2 separate regions of the Homo sapiens genome follow, and region 1 is linked to region 2. The links come from fine-mapping of genetic effects on gene expression. Tissue or cell type: whole blood. Region 2 holds a variant in brackets; the other region holds the start of a gene. Each region is shown on its reference strand, or each on the opposite one. Region 1 holds the start of SMIM1 (small integral membrane protein 1 (Vel blood group)). Region 2 has its middle 660 kb from the start of LINC01815.

Evidence for each region. PIP is the estimated chance that this variant, and not a neighbour inherited with it, causes the effect.
Region 1: it holds the start of SMIM1, and the variant in region 2 is the best candidate, but not a certain one, in a credible set for the expression of SMIM1 in whole blood (TOPMed, PIP 0.67).

Annotation. Positions count from the first base shown.
Region 1 is chr1:3,771,254-3,774,150 of GRCh38, reverse strand. It overlaps SMIM1 (small integral membrane protein 1 (Vel blood group)), which reads right to left and starts at 1,402. Exons shown (of 4, transcript NM_001288583.2): 1 at 1,363-1,402; 2 at 970-1,088. CCDC27 (coiled-coil domain containing 27) reads right to left here. Exons shown (of 12, transcript NM_152492.3): 12 at 2,506-2,750. The coding sequence ends at 2,628. RefSeq lists enhancers at 23-538, 539-1,054, 2,341-2,897 and a silencer at 1,116-1,995.
Region 2 is chr2:82,130,271-82,133,173 of GRCh38, reverse strand. No RefSeq gene overlaps it. Among named protein-coding and RNA genes, the nearest start is that of LINC01815, 660 kb to the right of the region's middle. The variant T/C (reference allele first, on the strand shown) is at 1,357.

The sequences.
Region 1 (2,897 bases), not on the chromosome of region 2:
ACCTTCCTCCCAGGTCATCGGCACAGAGGCCTAAAGGCACAGCAGCCACTCCCCTGCAAGAAGCCAGCTCAGAAACTCAGGCCCCAGGCAGTTCTGAGACTCCCGGCACTTCCATGTCTGCCTTCCCCCAAAGCCCAGAGAGGCAGAAGGAGCTGTCTCAAAGCCATAAAGTGTGCCTTCGGTGGGAGCCCTGGCTCAGTGCAGCCTGGCACTCAGGCCCGGAGAGGCCCAGCCTCTACTGGAGTATGGGTGCTGTTTTCCCGGAGCATGTGGAGCGGTCAGCTGCCTACCCGAGGTTCACGCCCTCTTGCCTGGTGTGCAGAATCCCATTCTGGTCCCAGCAGCAATGTGCCAGCCCCAGGTAACAGCCATGACCCGGGTAAGACAAGCTTAATACCACCACCCCTGCTTTCCCAAGTCACCCAGCTGGGGTCCAGGAGCCAGGGTGCAGCAGGGGATGGGAGAGTTTGCTTCTGTGAAAGCAGCAGCAGCCACCTCCTTCTTCCAGACTCGACGTGATGGCTGGAGCTGCTGGAGCTGCAGCAGCCGCCTTGCAACCCGACATCCACGCAGCATTAGTCTCGGGAGTGCTGAGGCTCCAAGTCCACAGCAGCAGCCCACCATGGGCCTCCCGGTGGGAGGGGTCAAGCCCAGTGTGTTCAACTCTGGGATCATGGGTTCCTGTCTTGCTGACGTAGAACACGTTGTTCCCAAGTCACCCCGGTGCACAGCCACCAGAGCCGGCCCTTGAGGCTGGCCTCCCTCACTTGCTCAGTAAACGTCTCTCCACACTCATGTGATGGTCACAGGTGTGGCGGCAGGAACCCATCAGGGACTCCCCTCCAGGCCCTGGGAGGCTCCCGGATCCTGGCACCTCCTGGGGGCTTGTGAGTGCAGGAAGGCCCTAGGTACACAGGCGCCCCTCCATAGACCTCTTCACCCCACAGCGCCTCAGGGCCCCACACTTACCCGGAGAACCTTGCCTGAGGGCTGGGGCCTCTGGGCCAGGTTGCGGTCAGGGCCTGGCCAGCGGCCCGCACCTCCCAGCGGGGCAGGTCGTGGGCTGAGGTGCGGCAGACGCCTCGAGCCTAAAAAAATAAAGGTGACCGGAGAAGCCGATCTTGCTAAGGGCCGGGAAGGGAAAGTGGCTGGTGTCGGGGGTCCCCAGCAGCCACAAGGAGCCGGGCAAGGAGCCGGGCGGGCAGTTCCGGCCCTGGCCCCGCACCGCGGGTTAGGCCGGTGGGGGTCAGTCCAGGGCACGCCCCCACCCCCGCCAGTTCTCAGCCAGCGAGGCCGCGCACAGTCGCACCTGCCCACTGCGGCCGCACCGGGAAGCCGCAGCCCGGACCCCGCGCGCCTCACCTGTGTCCCCGCGTCTCTGGGCTCCGCAGGGGCCGGGCCTGGGCAGGGGGCGAGGGCGGGGGCGGGGCCACGCGGGGAAGGGCTGGAGCCAGCAGCGGGGAGGTGTCTGGTCCGGAAGGTGGCGGGGCTAGAGTGGTGGGCGGGGCCATGCGGGGAAGGTCTGGGGCCAGTAGCGGGGAGGCGCCTGGTCCAGAAGGGGCCGGGGGCGGGGCGAGAGGGGGCGGGGCGAGAGGGGGGCGGGGCCATGCGGGGAAGGGCTAGGGCCGCAGCGGGGAGGCGCCTGGTCCAGAAGGGGCTGGGGGCGGGGCGAGTGGGGCCGGGAGACGCCTCGTCCGGAAGGGGCCGGGGCTCTAGGCCGCCCAGCCCCGGGGCCAGGAGGTGCAGGGGGGCCGGGCAGGGTCTGCAGAGGGCTGCACTTTCTGCCCCCAGACGGCTCGCCCTTGGGGCCTCCAGGGTCCCCGACCTCCTTCACCCCTGCTGGAGCCCCTCCGACGCCACGAGCCTCCCAGCCCCGCGGGGACCCGGCTGCAGCGCCGACGAGACTGCGGGAGGCTCTGGGCGCGTCTGGGCCTGAATGCTGGGTTCGGGGACCCGGCCGCGGGGACCGTCCTCCTCCGGGGCTTGAGGGGCGTGGCGCCCGCACGTGGCCCACGCTCGGTGCTCGCGGCGGGAAGGGAAGCAGGTGTGGGTGGGGAGCAGAGAAGGGTAATGGGGAGAGTCCCTTCCGAAGGTGTTCAGGCGCCCAGAGCCTCAGAGGCGCCGGGGAAGCGTCGGGGACCACAGACACCGTTCCCGTGCGTAAAGCTTTCCTTCCAGGAGCGGGGGGATGGGAACAGAGCCCCCCACCCTCACCATCTTCCAGAGGGGTCCTCCAGCAAGAGAGTGCCCCAGCCAGGAGAGCCCCCAGGGCAGAAGGTCACAGACCCCTTCTGCTCAGGCGTGAGGTCTGTGCTGAGTGCTGGGCGGACACCCCGGCTCAGGCCTCTGGCAGCCTGGTGCCGCAAGGGGACCTGTTAGGAGCTAGGGGCACAGGCTGGTGTGCTGACTCCCTGTGAGTGAGCTTTGGAATGGGGAGTGTCCTTGTAGCTCAAGGTCGCAGAGGAGAGTAGGCCCCCGCGTGGATCCCAGAGAAGAAAAAGGTGGGACAGTGCCAACACCGGGGTTTAATTCTGAGTCTGAGAGCAGGACGCATGGTGGGGGCGGGTGGTTCTGGAGCTGGGCCCCGGCCTCTGCTGGGCTGACCGTATTTGGGGGCCTGGCTGGGCCTACTTGGAGGTCCCCTTCTTGGATTTGCTGGTCAGGAAGGCCTCTGACTGTTGCAGGGGGGGCACTTTGACGCCTTTCTGCTTCAGCTGATTATAGTAGTCGCTTCTCTCTGAGATAATTCTCTACACAAGAAACACAGCCGTCGAGGTGGCCTTCCCAGTTCCTCACCTTGGCCTTGAGGCCGGTCTGCACAGTCCGTGCCAGCTGCCCGGGACGCCACCCTCTCCTCCTCCTCCAGAGAGGCTTGCTGCAGCAGGGGTGTGCTGGTG
Region 2 (2,903 bases):
ATGACATGATCCAAAATAAGTCCTTTCAAATTAACTTGTGGAAATCAAATTTCATGGAACATGTTTACTAAAGGTCACGTTTATGAAATGTTCTATAATTCTTTTACTATTTGGATTTATATTGAGGAAAACTGAGTTAGGATAATTACTATATTAAATACACCAGACATGCTTGTTGCTCACAATTATTCATTTAATTGGGCTCTTTTTAAAACTGTATTTCAAGTATTAGAACATCAGGTACATAAAGTGCTAATTTCCAGACATGTCATATCATCATAGTTTTATAAAAATCTGCCTCATATATACTTCCTTACCTGTGATATCCATAAAATATATAAATTTTTTCAAATAGATTTTAAAATGTAGCTAACATAGTTTTTAATGAAAAAGAGATCATCGAAAAAGTATGTCATATTTAATGAATATGTCATTGCAGTTTGAGAGCATTGTTTACTGTTTGTTTTGGATTCACTTGCTCTAAAAACCTCAGAGAGATGTACCTCTTAGCCGCCTAGAGGGTCTCAAAGTGTTGGTGTTACAGGAAAGGGGTCCTGATCCAGACCCCAAGAGAGGATTCTTGGATCTCACACAGGAAATAATTCAGGGCAAGTCCACAGTGCAAAGCAAAAGCAAGTTTACTAGGAAAGTAAAGGAATACAAGAATGGCTATTCCATCAACAGAGAAGACTCAAGGGCTGCTGGTTGCCCATTTTTATGGTTATTTCTTGATGATATGCCAAACAAGGGATGAATTATCCATGCCTCCCCTTTTTAGACCCTTTAGAGTAACTTTCTGACATTGCCATGGCATTTGTAAACTGTCATGGAACTGGTGGGAGTGTAGCAGTGAGGATGACCAGAGATCACTTTCATCGCCATCTTTGTTTTGGTGGGTTTGGGCTGGCTTCTTTACTGCAACCTGTTTTATCAGCAAGGTCTCTATGACCTGTATCTTGTGCCAACCTCCTATCTCATTCTATGACTTAGAATGCCTTAACCATCTGGGAATGCAGCCCAGTAGTTCTCAGCCTCATTTTACCTAGCTCCTATTCAAGATGGAGTTGCTTTTGTTTACACACCTCTGACATTTCCCCACTCTGCAACCTAAGGGTTGCAGAGAGGATTCATCTTCTGTAACTTCTTCAGGCTGAATAGGGATAATGATATTCCTGCCTAACAGTGAGGGTCTCTTGTGTTCAGGGTAGAGAAGAGCTCAGTATAAAGCATTAGTATGGAGACAGCCATTCATGACTCATGATTTCTGACAAGAAGTGACATCTGGAAGATTAGTAAGTGTTCAGTTTAAGAAAACACTTAATAAGCTTGTCCTGCATTCTTCCATAAAGAGTACAA[T/C]GGCAATATATTTCACAATAGTAAAGCAAAATAAGTAAAATTGTCCCAAGTAAACTAAGTAAGAAGGCTTTCCATGAACTGCGCAACTGTTGGAACCAAGTTGTTATTGGGTTGCTAGCCAATTCCAGTGTGCCCAGAATTAGAATACTGATTCAGATTTTTATATTACCCACCCCTCTTGTTTCTTCTGTGTAGTAGCCAGAGATGACTGTTTGGTTCATGGGAATAAGCAGGGTTTGCCTAAATTGCAGAAAAAAACTAAAACAACTGTTGAGACTAGAATTTAATAATGAGTGTACCATAGTTCTTGAAACATAATATTCCTCTCTCCAGTTCCCAATTTTTTGATTATTTTTATAAAGTGCAGCAAGAATAATTATTTCACATAAGTTCTTTTTAAATTGGCTTATTGGAAATCTGTTCCATAGAAGGAACATCAGATAAGGACTTTTTTAAAGCCAAGCCCAGCCATGGGCTTGTACCCTTAAATGCCTATGAGTTGAGTAAATTCCTCTCTTCTTGGGTTTCCAAGATAACTTAGGGCTCCAGGACCTGTTAGAATGTGACATTACTTACCATAGGTCAGAAACCCTGTACAGGGACTGTACAGGCAAGGTATGAGACCAGTTCCCAAGGGGCTTTTATTGGCTCTACAAGTCAAATTTGATTCCTTAAAGATAAGCATGCCATTACAGTTAAAGCCTTGGTAAAACAACCAGTTTCTCCAATTGTGTCCTGTTTCAAAAGAAAAGAGATTCTTATTGCACTTATGCAAATAACTATATTGCCATTAGTTAAGAATGCTCACAAATAGTTTCCAAATTCTGGAGAAATCAGGTAGAGAGAAACAAAAGCTCCAAATTTTGTTCACAGGAGTATACCTTAATTAATTGCTACAAGCTGTAAAGAGCTCAAAAGGAAAGTTTTCTTGACTCTGAAAAACAAAACATAGGATTAGCAATGTTTTAAGCAGTTAGACCTCTATTAGTTTAGTCCATGCAATTAACTTGTTTGATATTCATCAACATTTCAGCTCTCTATGAGAGTCTTGAATGTTTTCCCTCTATTGTGATGTTACAATCTCCAAAATTATCAGAAAATCTGCATTTAAGTACATCTGTTAAGAGTTCTATAGCTGACTATAAACCAACCTTCTAAAGAGAACCAAAACAAGACAACACGTGTCTGTGGATGACAAAAAGTCTTAGGACAGCCAATGTTAAAGTCACAATTGAAAAGAAAATTTGGTTACTTCTGTGGCATATAACAATTTTACATAACAATTATAACACTTAATAATATACACTAAGTCATATCAGAATTATAGGAGTTTCCCGTTATTTTGGAACATATACGAGTAACACATTTGTACAAATATAGCACAAAGAAAGCCAAACACTGTTTCATATATGATAATGTTTCCTGTTCGATTTTTTAACTCCCTAAATTTTATATACTCTAAGACCCTCCTAAGTTGGGCCTCTAACCCAAGGCTGGTCAGGTGTCCTTGCATTTTATTAAGAGGGGCCTCTAACCCACTCTGTCTT